Linked DNA regions of Homo sapiens. The protein of the gene in region 5 interacts with the protein of the main gene of each other region in a pairwise test. Each region holds a gene or a part of one and is shown on either strand. Other genes may lie near its edges. The genes, in order: CMYA5, TNNT1, DYNC2LI1, MYH3, CLIP4, MYBPC1 and SON.

Region 1 (3,500 bases), on a different chromosome or scaffold from region 5:
TGCAAGTGCAGGTGGCTCCTCCAGAAATTCTGGATCAATGACTTTAATAGTGGTAGGAAATATCTGGGTTCGTGATAGAACTCCTTCCTCTGCTTCAAATAAAGGCATCCCCGGTGACTTTGAGTCCACATCTCTCTTTGTGTCCTTTGAAACATTCCTGTCAGCTGAGTTTTGGCTTTGGGTCTCTGGATGAGATAATATGTTGTGGCCCTTTTCTGGTCCATAAAAACTTTCATCTAATTTCACCAAGTCATATTCATGTTCTAGTGCACTTTCCACTGAACTTACTGGGAAAGAGATAGTTTCTTCTGTAACTTCCTTTGAGAGTTTCTCTTCAACATTTAATTTCTGTGGAGCTTTCTGTTTTTCTGGGTCTGGGGAGATGTTATAATCAATCAAAGTATATTTTTCAAAATAATCCTCTTCACTGGGAATTGTGGGCTGAATAAATGATAAATCAGTTTCTGAATCTGTGGATATCTCTTCTTTTGTCTTATGAGTTTCCTTTTGTTTATTTTCTTTCAATGGGGTAACTTTTTCATCTTCTAACCTGCTCTTTAATGTTTTATGACAAGCAACTGTTTCACTATCATCAGGGAGTGGTATGGTTTTAAATGAGGCTTTCTCTTCCAAATATTCTAATTTATCTTGCATTTGTTCACTTTCTTCCTGATCGATTGAAGAAATAAAGGCCGGAGCATGAATATTCAATATCTCACAGCCTTCAGAAATGATACTAAAGGCAGTCTTCTGATCTTCTGAAAGTCCGGCTGGCTTACTAGTCACTGTAAAGTCTTCACCTTTTGCATATGTGTCTTCAGGTTCCTTGGGCATTTCTTTATTAGAAACCATTTTATCAGCATTGCTTGCTGATGTATTAGATATAAATTGAGCATAGTTGCTTTTTGCTGAAGACAGTGGTTCCTTTACACGGGTATCTTCCGCAGCCTCCAAGTGGTGCTTTGAAACAAGAACAGATTGTTTAGGCACATCGGATGTGTCATCTTTAGATGTCTGAATAGTATGAACTGTATGCCTTTCTGGAGTCAATTCTGATCGTGGCATTTCTTTTTTCTTCACTGCGTTAATTTCTGGAGAAGCTCCTGAAGCAAGAGTTTGTGGTTTTACAGGTGACAGCAAATATGGCGGTGTTTCTGAGCTCTTAGTTTCATCAAAAGGACGAGCTAAAGTCCTTTCGGATTCTTTAGATGGAAATCCTTCTTTCATACTTTCTTTTGTGATATCTACTGAACCACCTTTCCATAGCTCTGACTCTTTGAACTGTTCTTTTTCTTCACTGTGATCTGGCATATCTCTGCTTGACTTTTCTAACACTAGATTTCCTTCCTGAGACAAAGAGTGGTTCTCTATTTCATCATGACAAGAAAGAACCACTGGCAGGAAAGTCTTAGTTTTCTCCACCAAAACTTTACTTTCTTCTAAAGGACGTGGTTGGGTTCCTACTGCCTTTTCTTGAAATCCTTGTTTCACAGTTTCTTTTGTGATATCTACTGAACCGCCTTTCGATAGCTCTGACTCTCTGAACTGTTCTTTTTCTTCACTGTGATCTGGCATATCTCTGCTTGACTTTTCTAATACTAGATTTCCTTCCTGAGATAAAGAGTGGTTCTCTATTTCATCACGACAAGAAAGAGCCACCGGCAGGAAAGTCTTGGTTTTCTCCACCAAAACTTTACTTTCTTCTAAAGGATGTGGTTGGGTTCCTACTGCCTTTGCTTCTCTGATTTCTGGGTGAGCCTCTGCGAGCATGGCTTCTGATTTTTCAGTAACTGATGTAGCTTTAACTAATGAAAATGATTGAGTTTCACCCAAAGAATGACCTAAAGAGATATCTGATTCTCTACTCATAGACTCGGCTACATTCACAGAATAAGGCTGATGTTCCTGCTGCTTCTTTCCTTCTGAAAGCACATATACCTGATTTTCTTTTTCTTCACCTTTCTCCTTTTCAGAACCAACAATGATTTTGGGTCTTTCATTGTAGTCTTCATTTTGATAGAAGTGCTGTGGCATAGCATCGGCTTTTGATTCTTTCAGTTCAGTAGATCTAGATCCAAGTGTAATTTGTGTCTTCCCTATTTCATTACTATCTCTAAGCTCTAATGGGGCCACAGAGTTTTGTTTTTCTGCCAGCACCTTCTTTTCTGCCAAGGTATATGATCTGTTTTCCAAATTATCTTTCTTCTCAGTTGGACTAACAGACCTGAGTTTTGTTTCCTCTTCAGAAATTTTCAAGGAAGTAGGATTTTGCATTTCTTTCTTGAGTCTGTCTTCACTGAAATCAATTAAACTGCCTTTTGATTCTTCTACTGGCAAAATAATTGACTCTGGTTTCTCTGATTCCTTTGTGATATTTTTACTTGCAAAGTTGGAGGAAGCTGATTTTGGCTGTTGTGGCACCTTATCTACTACATCAAATGAAAGGAGTGATTTTTGTTTTTGATCACTTCTTGGCTCTTCCTTAAAAATAGAAATATTCCATTTAGATGGAGGAGCGATTGCTGGCTTCTGGACTCTTTTACTATCAGTAACATGAGGAGGAACAATAGTTTTGGCTTCTTCCATAACCAATTTCTCACCGATTAGTGAATAAGATTGAATTTCAAGGTTCTCACCATCAGCAGAAGTAACTACTGAGTTTATGTTCATTTCCTCTGAATCGCCTGAGATTTCTTTTTTTCCATAATCTTCCCTAGACACCTCAGAAATGAATTTTGGCTGTTGTAAATCTTCTACATTTGATAAAATCATGGATTTTTCTTTAACGTTTTGACCGTCACCAGATTTTACTAAAGTACCTCTGGGTTCATCAGCAGTTTTAAGTTTTACCTCTGATAATGAATGATCAGCTGGTTTCTCAGCTACATTAAAATTGGTGGGAATTGTACCTTCAGGATCTATCACAGTCACTGCTTTTTCTACGGATGGACTTGGCTGTGTTTCTAAGTCTTCTTGTTCAGCAACTTTGTTATCTGGAGTGCTCGATCCAAAAAACAAGCTGGACATCCACGATTTGAAAGATGAAATTCCTTTCTTTCCCTTTTCCTCAGGAAGGTCCGGCTTAGCCACCTTTGGTTGTGTAGGTGGATTTTGTGTCACCTCAGGTGACTCTGGGGATTGAGGCTCTCTTGCATGGATTGAGGAGATGGGTTTTCTTTGTGTGGGTATTTTTACTTCAGGTGATGGTTTCTTTCCCTCATCAGCATCATCAATAACCTTTGACTGAACCATTTTTGATTCTTCCAATGGCTTCTCTTCAGGAAAAGGAGGTGTGCTCCTGTGTGCTTCTTTTTCATTGCCCAATGCAGGTTCCACACCTTCTGCCGGGAAATGGGCTGTTTTGACAGAAGAGGAGATTGTTTCTGACTTCACCTGTTCCACTGATAGGCCAGACACTGGTTTCTGGAAGAATCTTTCAGGAGGTAGTTTAATTTTTTCCTGGCTATCTTCTTTGGAAGGCCAGGAAAGCTCTGTGTTTG
Region 2 (3,500 bases), on a different chromosome or scaffold from region 5:
AAAAATACAAAAATTAGCCGGGCGTGGTGGCAGGCGCCTGTAATCCCAGCTACTCTGGAGGCTGAGGCAGGAGAATCACTGAACCCAGGAGGCGGAGGTTGCGGTGAGCCGAGATGGCACCACTGCACTCCAGCCTGGGCGACATGAGCGAAACTCTGTCTTAAAAAAAAAAAAAAAAAAAGGCTGAGGTGAGAGGATCACTAGAGCCTGAGAGGTTGAGACTGCGGTGAGCTGTGATGGTGTCACTGCACTCCAGCCTGGGTGACAAAGTGAGACCCTATCAAAAAAAAAAGAAAAGAAAGAAAAGAAGGAAGGAAGGAAGGAAGGAAAGGTAGGTTTTAGTCCAGGGCTGGTATGGCAATTCTACAAAATCAGAGACCAGACTCCTATGTTTTCTGCTTCACTCACTACTTTTAGCCCAATATTTCCATCCTCAAAATCACTTAGTCCAATATAGCTGCTAGCTCCAGCCTCACATGGATGATCCAAGCAGCAGAAAGAAGACGCAAGAGAAGAGCCACACAGTCTCTTTTGGAAGCCGCACCCAGTGACCTGCTTTCGTCTGAGTAGCCACCCCTACCTGCAAGGGAGATTGGGCAAAGTAGTTTTTCAACTCAGCCTAATGCACAAGAGGCTATTTCTAGAAGAAAGGGAGAAGGGCTAACAGGTAGGCAAGCAGCCATCTCTTCCACAGTTTTATTTCCATATTTTCTAGAGAAGGAAACAGGATTCTAAAGGAAGTCATGTGACATATTCATAAACCAGAGAATGGCATGGCTGGGAATTGAACCAGGGGCTTCTAACTGCAGAGCCTGGGCTCGGTCTTTTCTTTCTTCCTTTTCTTTCCCCTCTCCCCTCCCCTCCCTTCCCCTCGTCTCCCCTCCCCTCCCCTCCCCTCGTCTCCCCTCCCCTCCCTCCCTCCCCTTCTTCTTCCCTCCTCTCCCCTCCCCTCTTCTCCTCTCCCCTCCCCTCTTCTCCTCTCCCCTCCCCTCTTCTCCTCTCCCCTCCCCTCCCCACTTTCCTTTCTCCTTTTCTTTCCTTTCTTTTGTCTTGCTCTGTTGCCAGGCAGGAATACAGTGGTGCAATCACAGCTCACTGCAGCTTTGACCTCCCAGGTTCCTTCTGCCTCAGCCTCCCAAGTAGCCGGAAACACCCTGCCTGGCTAATTTTTTTAATTATTTTTAGCAGAGACGGGGTCTCTCTTTGTTGCCCAGGCTGGTCTTGAACTCCTGGGCTCAAGTGTTCTGCTGGCCTCTGCCTCCCAAAGTGCTGGGATTACAGGTGCCGAGCCTGGTCTCTTAATCATGACACCCTTCTCTCCCCTTGGGAAATGCGAGAGCTCCAGCTCGGATGTGGAGAAAGTGGGCACAGATTTTAAAACTCTCGGCCTCAAATATGAACAAAATGGTGCCGACAACGCTGAACTCACAGTCTCGCTGTGTGGCTTTGGGTGGTTCCCACAACCTCTCTGGGCCCAAGTTCCTCTCCGTCCCTGGGCCTAGGGCCCGGTCTGCCTGGCTGCCTCCATCACAGCCCTCCTGCCCTGCCAGGGAGAAAGCCCAGGAGCTGTCGGACTGGATCCACCAGCTGGAGTCTGAGAAGTTCGACCTGATGGCGAAGCTGAAACAGCAGAAATATGAGGTGAGACCCAGCTCCGCAGGGAGGGAGGGAGAGAGGGCAGGGCTGGGCTGGGAGGGACCAGCAAACTCCAGGCAGGGGTGGGTGGCCCGTCCCCACGTCCCCACCGGCTGTCCCAGCATCTGTCTTCTGCCTCCGCAGATCAACGTGCTGTACAACCGCATCAGCCACGCCCAGAAGTTGTGAGTGTGACCGTCTCAAGCCCTTGCTCTTGTCCCTACCCTCCCGCTGACTCTCAGGCCTCTTTCCCTCCCTCTGTGGGCTCCATCCCCCACTGCCTGAGTTTCTGCCCCTTTCTCTTTGTCCTTCCTTCTCTGTCCTCCTCTCTCTGCTCTCGGAATCCTGGGTCTCAGTTCCTTTTTCTTTTTCTTTCTTTTTTTTTTTTTTTATTGAGACTGCGTCTCGCTCTGTCACCCAGGCTGGAGTGCAGTGGAGTGATCTCAGCTCACTGCAACTTCCATCTCCCGGGTTCAAGCGATTCTCCTGCCTCAGCCCCCTGAGTAGCTGGGATTACAGGTGCGCGCCACCAAGCGTGGCTAATTTTTGTATTTTTAGTAGAGACGGGGTTTCACCATGTTGGTCAGGCTGGTCTCGAACTCCTGACCTCGTGATCCACCCGCCTTGGCCTCCTAAAGTGCTGGGATTACAGGCGTGAGCCACCGCGCCCAGCCGAGAGGGTCTTCCCTGAATCTCTCTGTTTCTCCACTCCCTCTTCCTTCCTCCCTCCTCTCCCTCTCCCTTCTCCTCTTCTCCCATTTCCTGTCTCTTTCACCCCAGCCCTTCCTGCGTGTTACCCACCCATGCCCAGATCATCCAACCCTTCCTCCCCCCACCCTGGCCCCTGACTCATAAACATTCATCAGCTCCCCCATGAACACCCTGCACTCGCCCCCAAATATCAGCTCCCACATGTCAGCGAGGCTTTGACCACCAGCCGCTGCCCCCCAGTCATAGAACCCAAAAGAGGTGACAGTTGTTTTGCTCACTGCTTCCTCTGGGCAGGGAGGGCTAATATTTTGGGGAATGGGCTTCCTGAATTGAGGGCCTGGGGCCCATTTCAGAGACTGGAGGGGCCCCTTTTTCCTGATACCACCTCATTCTTCTACAGCCGGAAGGGGGCAGGGAAGGGCCGCGTTGGAGGCCGCTGGAAGTGAGGATGCCGCCCCGGACAGTGGCACCTGGGAAGCCTGGGAGTGTTTGTCCCATCGGTAGCTTGAAATAAACGCTCCCCTCAGACACCCGCTGGGTTCTCTGATGTTATTATGGTTGAGATGCAGCTGGTCTCTCCTGGTTAATTGACTTCTTATTACCAACAAGTTACTTGAAAGAGTGTCACCAATAATCATTAAAGTACGGCAGGCTGAACCTTCACACACTGCTGGTGGGAATGGAAAATGCAACAGCTTTGCAAGCAGCCTGGCGGTTCCTCAACAAGTGAAAGCATTTCTGCAGGACCCAGCAGTTCCCCTCCTGGATGTATATCCAAGAGAACCAAGAACCTTTGTCCACACAAAAGCTTGTACATGAATGTTCATAGTAGCATTTTTATTTTTAATTTTTAGAGACAGGGTCTTGCTCTGTCGCCCAGGCTGCAGTGCAGTGGCGTGATCACGGCTCACTGCAGCCTTGAATTCCTGGGCTCAAGTGATCCTCCCACAACAGCCTCTGAAAGTGTTGGGATTTTAGGTGTGAATCACTGCACCGGCCGCAGCATCTTTTTTTTTTTTTTTTTTTGAGATGGAGTCTTGCTCTGTCACCCAGCCTGGAGTGCAGTGGCATGATCTCGGCTCACCGCAACCTCCACCTCCCGGGTTCAAGCAATTTTCCTGTCTCAGCCTCCCAAGCAGCTGGGACTACAGGTG
Region 3 (3,500 bases), about 15 Mb from region 5:
ATCTACCAATCATACTGCTAAATCTTAATCTGATGGCCTGCTTCTACAGTATACGTTAGGAAATATATAAAATAAATGATAAAATATCCAGTTTGAGGACCAACACTGTGCTTCAAAAATGTACCCCTGAGCAACTAAAGCTTACAATGAATGTTCAAATAATTGTAGATTAGGTAGAACAAAAATAATTTAAATATCAGAGTAGCATAGCCAAAAAGAAGGTAAATACTATTGTAGGTTGGGTAATTATGGTAACATTTCTCCCTCAAATAGGGAAATCCAGTATTAGTCTCATATAATTTTTGGCTTATTGTTAGTTTTATATTTAAAGGCGCTCTTAAAGGTTATACTAAGGATTTGCTAAGAATTAAATATTTTGTTTGGGTCTCAAAATCGTTCCCCTTCCTTATGTCTTTTAGAGCTAACTTGCCCTATACAACTAGAATAAGCATAAATATAGTTTAAAGGTTAACATAACACTTACCTGTCAAGACACCTTAGAATAATAGTAGTCTTTCCCTGGAAATTAAAAAAGAAGGAACACTGCGTTAATGTCACTCATATGTAAAAATTGTATTATTGTTCGTAATTGTGGCCCAAAATAGATTTTTAATCAATTGAATGATAAATTACCTGGAAACTAAAAACTAGAAACTTTCGGAATTGTTCTAAAGTTTGATAAGTGGAAAAAGTTAACTGTCAACTTTCCATCACAGTGTAACTACACTGCTATTATTATAATTATAAAGTCCCACAGATGACAAATACTAGCAAATCATACCTCACTTAAGTGGTCAACTTGGCAGCTGTCTTAAATTTTTTCTCTACTCATCAATGTTAATTACTGGTTAAGCCGATGCTTAGTGTCTTTTAAAATGTTTTAATTCCAATTGTTGAAGTGGAAATAAAGAAAAAGGTAACATACAAATAAAGGACACATTGTAAATATGTTCAAAGTAAGCAATTCAGATACTGCATTAGAGTAATTTGTTTTAAGTCCAGAGGATGTACTTATTCCAAGTTTCTGTTTATTTTTATTTTATTTTATTTTATTTTTGAGACAGAGTCTCACTCTGTTGCCAAGGCTGGAGTGCAGTGGCATGATCTTGGCTCACTGCAACCTCTGCCTCCTGGGCTCAAGTGATTCTCGTGCCTCACCCTCTCAAGTAGCTGGGATTACAGGTGCACACCACCATGCCTGGGTAATTTTTGTATTTTTAGTAGAAACAAGGTTTTGCCATGTTGGCTAGGCTGGTCTTGAACTCCTGGCCTCATCTAATCTGCCCACCTCAGCCTCTCAAAGTGCTGGGATTACAGGTGTGAGCCACCATGCCCAACCCCAAGTTTCTTTTTAGGAGTAAGGAAATACAAGTTCTGGCCTAATTCCTACCACTAGTCAGGCAACTTAACTTCACAGCTTAGCCAGGGATTAGCTCAGTGGTTTATATCATTTTTAAAAAATAGTAAAATCCTTTTTTTTTTTTTTTTTTTAAAGAAAAGACCCCTTGCAAGGAAACAGATAAAAGAGAAACAGCAGGACAAGCTCCACTGGAGGAAACCTTCAGGCTCTAAAGAAAATAATTTGGAAAACTCTGGATTGCCAAAAACACAGAACACTTATTATATGTGTTTTTGTTTTTACTAAAAAAACCTATAGTTTTTGACAAAAAAGATAATTACTCCAGATTATATCTGGAATACGATCAAATTGAGTAAATTTTTTGTAATGAGATATATTAAAAAATAACTGGAATTGTACAATATAAAAATGTATATTATTGAAGGATGTTTATTGGCCAGTGTTACATCAAACTGAAAAACTAAAAACAACCTACATGTCCCCTACTGGCTAAATTAATTATGGTAAACCATATAATAGAATAATATACAGCTATTATGAATGACAATGTAGAAATATACTTACTGACATAGTAAAACATTCATAATAGATCAGCATGTCTCTGTTTTCAATTAAAAAATACTTTTCCTGCTTCCTTGAAGTACACACACACACACACACACACACATAGACAGAAACAAACACACAAATGTAGGGGGACATCACTATGTTAATAATGATTATTTCTAGCTGAAGGATTTGAAGGTAATTAAAGTTTTTAAGAAAATCAGGATTTTCTGCCAGGCATGGTGGCTCACGCCTGTAATCCCAGCACTTTGGGAGGCCGAGGCGGGTGGATCACGAGGTCAGGATATCAAGACCATCCTGGCTAACATGGCGAAACCCCAACTCTACTAAAAATACAAAAAAATTACCAGGCGTGGTCGTGGGCACCTGCAGTCCCAGCAACTTGGGAGGCTGAGGCAGGAGAATGGTGTGAACCCAGGAGGCAGAGGCTGCAGTGAGCCGAGATCACACCACTGCACTCGAACCTAGGCGACAGAGCGAGACTCTGTCTCAAAAAAAAAAAAAGAAAAAGAAAATCAGGATTTTCTAATTTTCCTACAATGAACTTGTATCATATGTAGTATGCTGTAAAAGTTCTAAATTAATAAGGGCTACATTACCCAAAAAGTAATGTACTCTGCAAGAAAGTAGAATAAGAATTGGAAGGAATTTTAAATAATATCTAGCCAATTTCCTCAAATTTTCATGGTACACTAGTATTCATTGATTTAAATCACTCCCCCTCGCCTTTTTTGTTTTTTTTTTTGAGACAGAGTCTCCCTCTGTTGCATAGGCTGGAGTGCAGTGGCACCATCTTGGCTCATGAAACCTCTGCCTCTGGGTTCAAGTGATTCTTAGGCCTCAGCCTCCGGAGTAGCTGGGATTACCAGTATGCACCACCACGTGCAGGTAACTTTTTGTATTTTTTAGTTGAGATGGGGTTTCACTATGTTGGTCAGGCTGGTCTTGAACTCCTGGCCTCAAGTGATCTTCCCACCTCAGCCTTCCAAAGTGCTGGGATTACAGTCTTGAGCCACCACGCCTGGCCTTAAATCACTTTTATTATTATTTCATATAAATGTATAGCACTATATGGTAACAATTCCAAATTAACATAAACTAATCTGGGAACTGAAATCAAGTTTTAGATTATCATTAAAATTACAATCCAAAATTTAAAAATTCATTAGTACACTCTGGTCCCCTGAGCATGTGGCTGTAGTCTTGTGGGTTTCCTAATTCAAGAAACATTGACCTAGTACAAGTTCATTTAGAGACCATCAAAATGAATCCCATCTTCCCTCCCATTGCCTCAATCGCCCCAGATGTCCAGCCCTCTCCTCTGACCCATTATCCCTGGAACTCTGAATTTCCTAACTCTGTAAACATCCCTTAATCTGGCCCAATAATCCCCTTCTGTCTTCCCTTCCTCTAAAATCCTTCCACTCTATGACTTCAGCTCCATGACTGGCAAACTCCCCAATATCTCAGCCTTTTCAGAATATTCTCTCCACATGTTGGCCTTAACTAAAATATGACTTACCCTGAACCCCTTCCTCTGCAGCCTTGTTAAACGAAGCTATTTATTCTCACT
Region 4 (3,500 bases), on a different chromosome or scaffold from region 5:
TGAAAGAGAGTCCTGTGTTTGTGTTCCAGATCTTCTGGAAAAATCAAGAGTCACTTTCCAGCTGAAGGCTGAAAGAAGCTACCACATCTTCTACCAGATTCTTTCTAACAAGAAGCCTGAGCTCATAGGTGAGGAAGTCACCAGTGGGGCTGGTCTTTTAGGTAGTTTGACTCTGATCACTAGACCAAGGAGAGTTGTATCTACGTAGAGTGACTCTACAGTCAACAGGGAAAGTTTATTTTATTTTATTTATTTATTTTGAGATAGGGTCTCACTCTGATGCCCAGGCTGGGGTGCAGTGGCACAAGCACAGCTCACTTGTAGTCTTGACCTTTCTGGGTTCAAGTAATCCTCCAGCCCCAGCCTCCCGAGTGGCTGCGACTACAGGTGCATGCCCCCACACCAGGCTACCTTTTGTGTTTTTTGTAGAGATGAGGTTTCACCATGTTGCCCAGGTTGGTCTTGAACTCCTGGGCTCAAGCAATTTGCCCGACTCGGCCTCCCACAGTGCTGGGATTATAGGTGTGAGCCACTGCACTTTGCCAGGAAAAGCTTATTTTAGAAATGGGATGTGGCTATCTGGGCAGTGACATGCCAATTTGAAAACCTAATCAAATGGAGGGCAACAAGATTAGACCACTCCTGACCAGCTCTGGTTTATAAAAACCTTCTGAGCAACTGAACACCTAACTGTCCTTTGGCGCCCCCTTGTGTTCTGGCACAGAAACAACCTATGGCCAAATGCGACGCCAAAGCAAACAGAATAATCAAGCCCACGGAGGCACTGCACACTGCCCCTTGTCTGCCCCTCACAGAGGTCTCCATGCACACTGCTTCTTTGCTCTTTGGCTGTATTTGCTCAGCCTTCTGGTCTCCAGCTTGGAAACAGGCTGCTGCTTTTCAACAGATTTTAGAAAAGGCTATGATTATACCAAACCACCTGGGTTGGCTCTCGTCCTGACCCGCACTCAGCCAGTTTTCCCTATTAACTTCTCCCAGCCGACACTGATATGCACCATTAGCGTGCAAGGCAAGGGAATTTAAAGGTTCTCTCTAGGGTCCTTCATCTCCATTGTGTGGGAGACTGAAAAGTCTTCCCTGGACTATATTTTCCATGACAGCCTGAGTATTGTGGAACTGTCTAAAAGATTTTTAATTCTAAGTTCAATTTAGGATCCAGCGGTAAAAGTTCCAGCCCAGGGTGCAGGAGCTCAAGTCCACTGGGTGGGTTTTTTCTTTGCATCTGCATAACCTCCTGGAACTATTTGTCATTTCAGAGCTGCTGCTTATTACGACCAACCCTTACGACTACCCGTTCATTAGCCAGGGGGAGATCCTGGTGGCCAGCATAGATGATGCAGAGGAGCTGCTGGCTACAGACGTAAGTGGAACCAACAGAAGGGGTGGGTGTTCCTCCTCCATCACTGGGGCCAACTGACTGACGTGCTGCCCTTTCCATGCCAGAGCGCCATTGACATCCTGGGCTTCACCCCAGAAGAGAAATCTGGGCTCTACAAGCTGACGGGAGCCGTGATGCACTACGGGAACATGAAGTTCAAGCAGAAGCAGCGAGAGGAGCAGGCCGAGCCGGATGGCACAGAAGGTACAAAATCAGTGTGACAGCAAACCAGAGCGGGTGGCTGATCTGCTGAGGTCACTTGGTACTGCTTTTGAAAGCAATTAATCCAGCCAGGCACAGTGGCTCACACCTGTAATCCCAGCACTTTGGGAGGCTGAGGGGGCCAGATCACCTGAGGTCAGGAGTTCGAGACCAGCATGGCCAACATGGTGAAACCCCATCTCTACTAAAAAAAATTAGCTGGGCATGGTGGAGCATGCCTATAATCCCAGCTACTCAGGAGGCTGAGGCACGAGAGTCAGACAGAGTTTTGCTCTGTCATCCAGGCTAGAGTGCAGTGGCATGATCTCAGCTCACTGCAACCTCTGCTGCCTGGGTTCAAGTGATTCTCCTGCCTCAGCCTCCCGAGTAGCTGGGATTACAGGCACACACCACCGCGCCTGGCTAACTTTTTTGTATTTTTAGTAGAAACGGGGTTTCACCATGTTGGCCAGGCTCAAACTCCTGACCTCAAATGATTCGCCTGCCTTGGCATCCCAAAGTGCTGTGATTACGGGTGTGAGCCACTGTGCCCTGCCGGCATGAGAGTTTCTTGAACCCAGGAGGCAGAGGTTGCAGTGCACTGAGATCGTGCCACTGCACTCCAGCCTGGGCAACACAGTAAGACTGTCTCAAAAAAAAAAAAATGGATGGAAGCGATTAATCCTTCCATCTGGAGAAGTGAATGACCCTTTCTGGGCCTCCGATGCCCATAGCTATTGTTACCACTCGCTTTTCCTGAATCACTCGAATAGTCTTGTTTCAGATGCAGTGAGGGATGACCAGGGCTTTCTGAGACCCAGCCCTGGCTTTTCATAAAGTCCATTATATTCTCTGAGTGACTTAGCTTCCATTGGCCATGTATATGCAGTTTAGCCACAGGGAATGCACAATGTACCAAGATGAACTTAACCAACCTTTGAAACTTCTGGATGATTTTCAAAGCAGCTCTTCTACTTTTCTAAGCACTGTCCTTGTTTTCTTGCCAGTGGCTGACAAAACAGCCTATCTGATGGGCCTGAACTCTTCGGACCTCCTAAAAGCTTTGTGCTTTCCTAGAGTGAAAGTTGGGAATGAGTACGTTACCAAAGGTCAAACTGTGGATCAGGTAACAGCTTCAAGGCCGGGAAAGGGTGCAGGACCCTGCTGGCCACTTCCTTCATATCCAGTAGCTGATCTTTCCCCTGATAGGTTCACCATGCTGTGAATGCTCTTTCAAAATCAGTTTATGAAAAGTTGTTCTTGTGGATGGTCACTCGCATTAACCAGCAACTGGATACGAAGCTTCCAAGACAACACTTCATTGGTGTTTTGGACATTGCAGGCTTTGAAATCTTTGAGGTTTGTGTTACTTATATTCATATTTTCATATGGCTTCATATGAGGGAAATTGGTTTCATGATCCTAAAGGGAAGATAGCAAGATGGCGGCTGTCTTAGTTTCCTGTAAGAAACTAGATGGAGAGTGGATGGAATAGAGGAGCGGTACTTATTGGAAGGGTTTGTATTAGGGTTTTTTGTTTGTTTTTTTTTTTTGAGACTGAGTTTCACCCTGTCACTCAGGCCAGAATGCAGTGGCGCCATCTCGGCTCACTGCAACCTCTTCCTGAGTTCAAGTGAACCTCCTGCCTCAGCCTCCTGAATAGCTGGGATTACAGGCGTGTGCCACCATGCCTGGCTAATTTTTGTATTTTTAGTAGAGATGGGGTTTCACCATGTTGGCTAGGCTGGTCTCGAACTCCTGACCTCAAGTGATCCATCCGCCTCGGCCTCCGAAAGTGTTGGGATTACAGGCATGAGCCACCGCACCTGGCTGGGTTTGTATTATTTTAAAAGAGGAGAAGATGTCTATCAAGTGGAATTTTAAAGGACATTTTCAAATG
Region 5 (3,500 bases):
GAGAAACCCAGAGACCTGTGCAGGGTCCTCCTCAACTATTCATCATATGCTTGTGAGGAAATACTTGAAGTAAGGGAAAGAACCATCCATAAGGACTACAGGGATTAGTGCCTATTCTCACAAGGAAGATTGAAAAAGAATCCTCATAATTCACACAGCATTGAGTAGAACAGCAGTCCCCAATCTTTCTGGCACCAGGGGCCGGGGTAGGGGGACCAGTACCAGTCCGTAGCCAGGGGGTTCAGGGCCCCTGGAGTGGAATTCTCAGTAGTAGGGAACAATTAGCCCCAGGCCAAGAATGGCTCCAGACCCACCTAACAAATCAGAAAAGTAGGACCTCAAAGGGTCCAACTATTTCCAAGTAACTAAACTGTATCCCAGAACAAAGTTCAAGAATACTTACAGGAATACAAAAATATCCAGCATCTAACAAGGTAAAATTCACAATGTCTGGCAGCCAATTAAAGATTATCAGGCAAGCAAAGAAAGAAGAAAACATGACCCATAATCAGGGGAATAATAGACCTAGAGTTGACATGGATATTATAATTAACAGAGAAGGACATTAAAACAGTCAATATAACTCTATTCCAAATGTTCAAAGGTGGAGAAGAGACCTGGGCATAAAAAAGAGCCAAAGCAAACTTTAGAGATGAAAACTTCATCTGAAATGAAAACTGCACTGGAAAAAATCAGCAGCTAATTAATTAGACACTGCAGAAGGAAAGATTAATGAACTTGAAGATGCAGTAATATAAACTATCCAAAATAAAGAGAAAAAAATGTTTAAATATAAAATAAATCAGTGAGTTATGGGACAACTTCAAGCAGTCTATAATATACATGCAATTACAGTATCTGAAAACGGGGAGAAGCAGACAAAAAATTTTTTTAAATGATTTCCCAAACTTAATGAAAACTGAAACTCAGATCCAAGCAGCTCAACCAAACCCAAGCACAAGAACATACAGAAAACAATACCTAAGCACATAATAGTAAAATTGCTCAAAATAAAAACTCTTTAAAGCAGCCAAAAAAAAGACATTACATCTAGAGAAACAAAAATGACAGCAGAAACAATGCAAATGGGAAGAGAGCAGAGCAAGATCTTTCAAGTACTGAAAGAAAACTACCAACCTATAATTCTAAACCCAGCAAACACATTTTTCAAAAAAATAAGGTAAATAAAGATGTTTTCAGACATAAAACAGCTGAAAGAATTCATCACTGGCAGACCAGCACCATAAGAAACATTACAGGAAGTGCTTCAGGCGGAAGGAAATGGTATCAGATGGAAATCTGGACCTACACTCACAAAGGAATGAAGAGCACTAGAAATGGTAACTACATGGGTAAATGAGATTTTTTTATATTATTTAAATTTAACAGATAATTCAATGTTTAAGCAAAATATATAATAAGGTATTTTGGTATTTATAATGTATATAATGTGTATTCTGCATGAACTGATTCTGAAGGCATTTCAAAGCAAAAGATTCCAAAAATTGTTATGCAAGAACAGTACATAGTTTCACAGGGTAATCACCTTGAGAGTCAACACTGAGTCACATGCCTCAACTCTGGTTTCTGTGGACTGGTTTCTTTTTGTTTCTTTGTTTTACACTCATTAGTTGGTATTATATAAAAATTCCCTATGGGGGCCTACATGACCCCGCATGACCTGGCCGGTGTCTTACTCTCCAATTCCTTCTCCTCCCACTCTGCCATCAATCACTTTGCTTCTCAGCCACAAAGACCTTCCATTAATTCTTAGGATATACCAAGGTCTTCCCTCAACACTGTGCCTTTAGTTTTCTGTTTTCCTTCCTGGAACACTTCTTCCCAGGCTCTTCTCACAGCCAGCCTCTTCTGATTCTCCGAATGACCACCCCATCTAAAGCAGCTGCCTTGCCCCCATTGTTCTCTATCACAGCACCCTGTTTCTTTCTTCCACAGAATTCATTATGACCTATTTTTGCTTTGTCTATTCATTTGTTTGTTTACTGGTCTTCCCTATAGAAGACCTGTCTTGGTCACTGATATCTCCAGCATCCAGGACAGTCCCTAGCACACAAGAGGCCCTCAATAAATACTTGCTCAATAAATGCAATTATATATGCCGCTTTTCAAGGGGAGACTGACCACAGTGTACCAAGAAAGCAGCTACGATGAAAAGGGTCTAGAAATCCTGACAATGAGAAACTGGTGAAGGAAACAGAAATGTGTAGCCTAAGGAGTTTCAGGCTAAGTTAAAATGTTCAAACTATCTGCAGATACTTAAAGGCTATCCTATAAAGGAATTTGTGCCATGTATCAAACTAGAATCACTTGGCCAAAATTTCAGGGAGACCAATTTTGAGTCAACATACGAAAACAATTTTATTACAACTAAAGCTTTTTAACAATAAAATTAACTATTTTGTTAGTTTCCCACTATTGAAGACATGCAAGAGGTTAAATGGTTATCTGACAGAGATCCTGAAAATATGATGTCTACACAGGGAGGTGAGTGGGGAAAGGTTCATAAGAGTCTACAAAAACCTATAATTCTAAGACTACAATGCTTTTTTTTTTTTTTTTTTTTTTTTGGAGACAAAGTCTCACTCTGTGGCCCAGGCTGGAGTGCAGTGATGCGATCTCAGCTCACTGCAACCTCTGCCTCCTGGTTCAAGTGATTCTCCTGCCTCAGCCTCCTGAGTAGCTGACAATATAGGCGCACACCACCATGCCTGGCTAATTTTTGTATTTTTAGTAGAGACGGGGTTTCAACGTTTAATTCCAGTTATGCAAAATGTCAATATCCATTATTACCTTTCATTCAATGTATTTATTCAACAATCATTGAGCAACTAATAACAAATGACTATATTAGCCTTTTTGAGATAAACAAAAATAAAATGATTGTTCTCCATCCCAAAGCGCTACAATATAGGAAAGAAAATAAGACAATTAGAAGTCAAGATGGAGTGAGACAAGTATCATACCTAAGGTACAATGCACAAGGTTCAAGGTTTCCCCTGCATAACTGATTTTGTTATATCTGAAAATAAGCCCAGTTGATTACTGCAAAACCTGCAGATAACTCCCAAGATCAAGGCACAGGTTTTATATAATACTTCTGACGACTGGTCTAGGTAAGCTGCTAAAGAATCTGAATACAAAAAAAAAAAAAAAGAAACTTGGAGATGAGGAATTACTATACTACAACGAATATGACTAAAAAGACAAATTCTCAGTCCAATAACTTTATATCTACTAATATCTACTAATATGTAAAAATTGTATGATCTCTACCTCCAAAAACAATTTGAAATGGTGAACCAACATTTTACTTGAAAAACTCTAAACTGGAAATTTAACAATTCTATCAAATTTATCTCCTGGTTCCCTTTTATTATGGTTCTGGAGAAATAAGCCTAAATAGATGAGAAGTGGAATGCTTCTAAATTAACATTTTACAGAGGAGATGTAAATGGACCAATTTAAACATTAACCAATCT
Region 6 (2,279 bases), on a different chromosome or scaffold from region 5:
TGTAAAAGATGTAGGAAAATAGAAGCACATGAAATGAAGGGTGGGGATCCAGTCACGTCAAAAGGATCATTAATATGTAAAACATTTATTAATATGCACAACTACTTTGCCTGAATAGGTGGCAAAGTCATTCTGATTGTATAGTGAATATCTATGGTAAGAGCTTCCAAACCATTAGCTTAAAACAAATACAAAAACCAAAACCCTACAACATATATATATCGTGTTTTTCAACAAAAGAAAAACATAGACAATAGACAAAGTGTTAGTGTACATATATATATGTTGAAATTCTAAAAGGCAAAATTATCAAGTACAAATATTAGACTAGTGTATTCTATAATATTGTATTCTGCATGGAATATATATGACTGATCTAAATAGACACAAAACCTTATGTTACAAAGCTATTCTATATACAATCTACAAAGCTTTCAAAAAAGAACCTTACTTTTTTCCTCTTTTGAAAGCTGTTATTATCTCTGGAAACTCACAAAACAAATATTGTAAACTCAGGCATAGATCTACATTATCAGGGTTTTTATCAGGTTGCATACCCAGCTGCAAAAAACTCTTAATTTGCAATTCCAAATGGGGGTGAATCACATATATATGATAGTACTCATTTATTGCTTGATACATTTTGTAATAGAGCCTGGAATTTTCTTTCCTTTTAAGTTCATAAACGTGAAATAATTTGAGTCCCCATGAAAATGTCCAAAATCTTCAACAGATAGATGGGTTACAGATATTCTACTTGTGAATTTGTAATGGGAATATTTTAAATATGTAAGTTTCCCAATTTATTTTTTTTATTTTTTATTTTTTTGAGACAAAGTCTCACTTTGTCACCTAAGCTGGAGATCTTGGCTCACTGAAGCCTCCTCGACCTTCCAGATTCAAGTGATCCTCCTGCCTCAGCTCTCCAAGTAGCTAGGACTATAGGCATGTGCCACCACACCTGGCTAAGTTTTGTACTTTTTGTAGAGATGGGAGTTTGCCATGTTGCCCAATCTGATCTTGGACTCCTGGGATCAAGCGATCCACCTACCTCAGCCTCCCAAAGTGCTGGGATTATAGGCGAGAACCATCACGCCCAGCCTCTAAATATTGGATCTATTTTTGTATCCTCTTTCCATAAAAAATGCTCAGAACATCAAAAAAAATGTTTGAAATGTTCAGTTCTCTGAATTGCATCATGAATGTAAGGAAACTATGCTGTCAACTATCTTTAAAAAAGTCTCTCTACATTTAAAAAATGAAAATATTAAAGAAATATTGATACCCAAGTTTTGATAGTCTTATTATATAAAACGAGATCATCTTCAAATGTAGCTTTCTGGCTTTATTCATGGAGACTTGTGGTATGGTATGTAGCTTTCTGACAAAACTTAGTTTCTACATTACTTAATATCCTTGAATAATTTGGCCTTCCTTGTTCATGGCATAAGCACTGTATGCCATGAGCTGCTAAGGGGTACAATTAAAAGCAAATGAGAAAGTCAAGCTTTACATGCAAGGTGCATTTTCATGTAAGAGGAATGGAACGGAAAGTAGAATATCCAGTGGGATATAAACTTTTTAAACCTGTTGCTGCCCCTCCAGGAAGACTGGTTGTCCAGGGGTATTTACTCCTTGATATATCACTGCAGAATCAGAATATTTGTACCAGTATTTATTTATTCTCAGTTGACATTCTTACCTTTTTTCACAACTCAACTTGATTCAAGTTACCTATTATCAGAGTAACAGTCTGATGATAAACAATTTCAGCTTTACTTTTAGGACCAAAAGCTTTTATCAATATATCACAATTGATACTTTATTACGAACTTATGTACTAGAATACATTATTCTTTTTATCAAATTTAATTACTGTACCATTTACTACATTTTCACTAAAAAGAATATATCATGTATATGTATAATACTATTCGCTTTTAAGGAGGGCCCCAAATATTGTTCCATTTGTTAAAGCATCATTTTATATCATTAACAACATTCAGCTAGTTTCAAAGCATAAATAAGTGGTACTTTTTTTTTTAGTTTTTGTTTTTTGGGGGGATATTGAAACAAAAGCATCAACAATACTTTGGAACTAATAAGGCTAGCAGTTTAGAAACCAGATGACTTGCAATTATGAACTTAATCATTTAAAGCCAATAAAGCAGCTAAAAATGTTTAAATTTGTAAGGGTTATCTCAATAGTAAGGCTTGAAATTTTCTAAGAATATTATATGCCTTATATTTGTGAGGAAAAAAAAATCAAATCTTTTTCC
Region 7 (3,500 bases), on a different chromosome or scaffold from region 5:
AGCAGAAGAACATGAAGTTGTTCCAGAGAGACCAGTGACTTGTATGGTATCTGAAACTCCCGCCATGTCAGCTGAACCAACTGTGTTAGCATCAGAGCCTCCTGTTATGTCAGAGACAGCAGAAACATTTGATTCCATGAGAGCCTCAGGACATGTTGCCTCAGAAGTATCTACATCCTTGTTGGTTCCAGCAGTAACTACTCCAGTGCTGGCAGAGAGCATTCTGGAGCCGCCAGCCATGGCTGCCCCAGAGTCTTCAGCTATGGCTGTCCTGGAGTCTTCGGCTGTGACCGTCCTGGAGTCTTCGACTGTGACTGTCCTGGAGTCTTCGACTGTAACTGTCCTGGAGCCTTCGGTTGTGACTGTCCCGGAGCCTCCTGTTGTGGCTGAGCCAGACTATGTTACCATTCCTGTGCCAGTTGTTTCTGCGCTGGAGCCTTCTGTGCCTGTTCTGGAACCAGCGGTGTCAGTCCTTCAACCTTCTATGATTGTTTCAGAACCATCTGTTTCTGTCCAGGAATCGACTGTGACAGTTTCAGAGCCTGCTGTCACAGTCTCAGAGCAGACTCAAGTAATACCAACTGAGGTGGCTATAGAGTCCACACCAATGATACTGGAATCTAGTATCATGTCATCACATGTTATGAAAGGAATTAATCTATCCTCTGGTGATCAAAATCTTGCTCCAGAGATTGGCATGCAGGAGATTGCATTGCATTCAGGTGAAGAACCACATGCTGAGGAACACCTGAAAGGTGACTTTTACGAAAGTGAACATGGTATAAATATAGACCTTAATATAAATAATCATTTAATTGCTAAAGAGATGGAACATAATACAGTGTGTGCTGCTGGTACTAGTCCTGTTGGGGAAATTGGTGAAGAGAAAATTTTGCCCACCAGTGAGACTAAACAGCGCACAGTATTGGATACCTACCCTGGTGTTAGTGAAGCTGATGCAGGAGAAACTCTATCTTCTACTGGTCCTTTTGCTCTGGAACCTGATGCAACAGGAACTAGTAAGGGTATTGAATTTACCACAGCATCTACTCTCAGTTTAGTTAATAAATATGATGTTGATTTATCTTTAACTACTCAAGATACTGAACATGACATGGTAATTTCCACCAGTCCTAGTGGTGGTAGTGAAGCTGACATTGAAGGGCCTTTGCCTGCTAAAGATATTCATCTTGATTTACCATCTAATAATAACCTTGTTAGTAAGGATACAGAAGAACCATTACCTGTAAAAGAGAGTGACCAGACATTAGCAGCTCTGCTCAGCCCTAAAGAAAGTAGTGGAGGAGAAAAAGAAGTACCTCCCCCTCCTAAAGAGACACTGCCTGATTCAGGATTTTCTGCCAATATTGAGGATATTAATGAAGCAGATTTAGTGAGACCGTTACTTCCTAAGGACATGGAACGTCTTACAAGCCTTAGAGCTGGCATTGAAGGACCTTTACTTGCAAGTGATGTTGGACGTGACAGATCTGCTGCCAGCCCGGTTGTAAGTAGTATGCCAGAAAGAGCTTCAGAGTCTTCTTCAGAGGAAAAAGATGATTATGAAATTTTTGTAAAAGTTAAGGACACTCACGAAAAAAGCAAGAAAAATAAGAACCGTGATAAGGGGGAGAAAGAGAAGAAAAGAGACTCTTCATTAAGATCTCGAAGTAAGCGTTCCAAATCTTCTGAACACAAATCACGCAAGCGTACCAGTGAATCTCGTTCTAGGGCAAGAAAGAGATCATCTAAGTCCAAGTCTCATCGCTCTCAGACACGTTCACGGTCACGTTCAAGACGCAGGAGGAGAAGCAGCAGATCAAGATCAAAGTCTAGAGGAAGAAGATCTGTATCAAAAGAGAAGCGCAAAAGATCTCCAAAGCACAGATCCAAGTCTAGGGAAAGAAAAAGAAAAAGATCAAGCTCCAGGGATAACCGAAAGACAGTTAGAGCTCGAAGTCGAACCCCAAGTCGTCGGAGTCGGAGTCATACTCCAAGTCGTCGACGAAGGTCTAGATCTGTGGGTAGAAGAAGGAGCTTTAGCATTTCCCCAAGCCGCCGCAGCCGCACCCCCAGCCGCCGCAGCCGCACCCCCAGCCGCCGCAGCCGCACCCCCAGCCGCCGCAGCCGCACCCCCAGCCGCCGGAGCCGCACCCCTAGCCGTCGGAGCCGCACCCCAAGCCGCCGGAGAAGATCAAGGTCTGTGGTAAGAAGACGAAGCTTCAGTATCTCACCAGTCAGATTAAGGCGATCAAGAACACCCTTAAGAAGAAGGTTTAGCAGATCTCCCATCCGTCGTAAAAGATCCAGGTCTTCTGAACGAGGCAGATCACCCAAACGTCTGACAGATTTGGGTGAGTCATTTTAAAGTTTAATGGGATGGTAGTAGAAAATGTTTTAAACCTTAATTTTTTTCTGACCTTGAGTCAAGTGAAATACTTAGTTACTGGTTTAGGATAAATGTTTCTGTCTTTAAGTTTTTATTATTACATGGTACTGTATTTAGGAACTACTGGGATCAGTGTATTATAATTAGAGTTAAAAAGTCCTGTTTCAGAGTATAATAGAACCAAGGTGTTTCCATATTTGAATGTTTTATTTTGTTTTAGTTATCTTGCCATAGCTAAAAATTGAAAGCAGAAACAGATGTAGAACTCTAGCTAAATTAAAAACAAGCTAAGTATATGCTCAGATTGTTATTGTATGTGTTCTAACATACATCCTTGCAACTAAGCCTAAAATTACAATGTTCCTTTTTAAATAAGTTAACATATCTTAAAATGGCATTATAGGACTGTTAAATGAAGGTAATTCTGATTGGTATAGTTGGTAATGGAAGTGAGTGGGGAATTTTGCGTGTGGGGGTTATTTAATTGGGTAGGTGATACTAGCTAAATAAAGTTAAATATTTTAGATCAGTGTGATTTTTAATAACCTGTTCTGCTTTACTTTAAAGATAACTGTTCTAATTTCCCCTGATTTTTAGTGTGCAGAGGTGATTAAAACTTGATCGATATGAATGATTACCTATAATAAATATGGATAATTTATCCTTATCCCAGTATACTGGACATTTCTAGGCCAGGATTGTCTAAAGAAGAAGAGGTTAAGAGTAAAAAGGGAGAATCTGCATTCAGTTCAACAGAAGTTTTCTGAGTTCTTTTTTATTCACAGCAGAGGAACAGTATGTAATTCCTCAAGTGATTGCAAGTGGTGGAGGAGACATGGGTAAAATGCATATATGTCTCTCTTATAGTAACACTGTCTAAAAAGGACAGAATGTGATTACTATAATACTGATAGAGGTGAGGTACTTTAGGAACACAATGGGAAAAGGGGAAAAGGAATGTTAATTCTGACTTAATGACAGCTTGTTAGAAGAGGTGGCACTTCGGCTGGGCATGGTGGCTCATACCTGTAATCCCAGCACTTTGGGAGGCCGAGGCAGGTGGATCACCTGAGGTCAGGAGTTCGAGACCAGCCTGGCCAATGTGGAGAAA

What was found.
Region 1: the proteins of CLIP4 (region 5) and CMYA5 interact in a two-hybrid assay, tested with the Homo sapiens proteins (one large-scale study listed by BioGRID and IntAct).
Region 2: the proteins of CLIP4 (region 5) and TNNT1 interact in a two-hybrid assay, tested with the Homo sapiens proteins (one large-scale study listed by BioGRID and IntAct).
Region 3: the proteins of CLIP4 (region 5) and DYNC2LI1 interact in a two-hybrid assay, tested with the Homo sapiens proteins (one large-scale study listed by BioGRID).
Region 4: the proteins of CLIP4 (region 5) and MYH3 interact in a two-hybrid assay, tested with the Homo sapiens proteins (one large-scale study listed by BioGRID and IntAct).
Region 6: the proteins of CLIP4 (region 5) and MYBPC1 interact in a two-hybrid assay, tested with the Homo sapiens proteins (one large-scale study listed by BioGRID and IntAct).
Region 7: the proteins of CLIP4 (region 5) and SON interact in a two-hybrid assay, tested with the Homo sapiens proteins (one large-scale study listed by BioGRID and IntAct).

Annotation. Positions count from the first base shown.
Region 1 is NC_000005.10:79,734,836-79,738,335, reverse strand, and holds part of CMYA5 (cardiomyopathy-associated protein 5), read right to left. Parts: coding exon 1-3,500. UniProt on the Homo sapiens protein: May serve as an anchoring protein that mediates the subcellular compartmentation of protein kinase A (PKA) via binding to PRKAR2A. May function as a repressor of calcineurin-mediated transcriptional activity.
Region 2 is NC_000019.10:55,132,207-55,135,706, reverse strand, and holds the end of TNNT1 (troponin T, slow skeletal muscle), read left to right. Parts: intron 1-1,502; coding exon 1,503-1,641; intron 1,642-1,779; coding exon 1,780-1,820; intron 1,821-2,746; coding exon 2,747-2,792; 3' UTR 2,793-3,009; downstream 3,010-3,500. UniProt on the Homo sapiens protein: Troponin T is the tropomyosin-binding subunit of troponin, the thin filament regulatory complex which confers calcium-sensitivity to striated muscle actomyosin ATPase activity.
Region 3 is NC_000002.12:43,780,539-43,784,038, reverse strand, and holds part of DYNC2LI1 (cytoplasmic dynein 2 light intermediate chain 1), read right to left. Parts: intron 520-3,500; coding exon 485-519; intron 1-484. UniProt on the Homo sapiens protein: Acts as one of several non-catalytic accessory components of the cytoplasmic dynein 2 complex (dynein-2 complex), a motor protein complex that drives the movement of cargos along microtubules within cilia and flagella in concert with the intraflagellar transport (IFT) system, facilitating the assembly of these organelles.
Region 4 is NC_000017.11:10,643,810-10,647,309, reverse strand, and holds part of MYH3 (myosin-3), read left to right. Parts: intron 1-29; coding exon 30-128; intron 129-1,277; coding exon 1,278-1,381; intron 1,382-1,464; coding exon 1,465-1,603; intron 1,604-2,607; coding exon 2,608-2,726; intron 2,727-2,809; coding exon 2,810-2,959; intron 2,960-3,500. UniProt on the Homo sapiens protein: Muscle contraction.
Region 5 is NC_000002.12:29,121,915-29,125,414, reverse strand, and holds part of CLIP4 (CAP-Gly domain-containing linker protein 4), read right to left. Parts: intron 1-3,500.
Region 6 is NC_000012.12:101,681,971-101,684,249, reverse strand, and holds part of MYBPC1 (myosin-binding protein C, slow-type), read right to left. Parts: intron 1,647-2,279; coding exon 1,588-1,646; intron 1-1,587. UniProt on the Homo sapiens protein: Thick filament-associated protein located in the crossbridge region of vertebrate striated muscle a bands. Slow skeletal protein that binds to both myosin and actin.
Region 7 is NC_000021.9:33,553,038-33,556,537, forward strand, and holds part of SON (protein SON), read left to right. Parts: coding exon 1-2,354; intron 2,355-3,500. UniProt on the Homo sapiens protein: RNA-binding protein that acts as a mRNA splicing cofactor by promoting efficient splicing of transcripts that possess weak splice sites.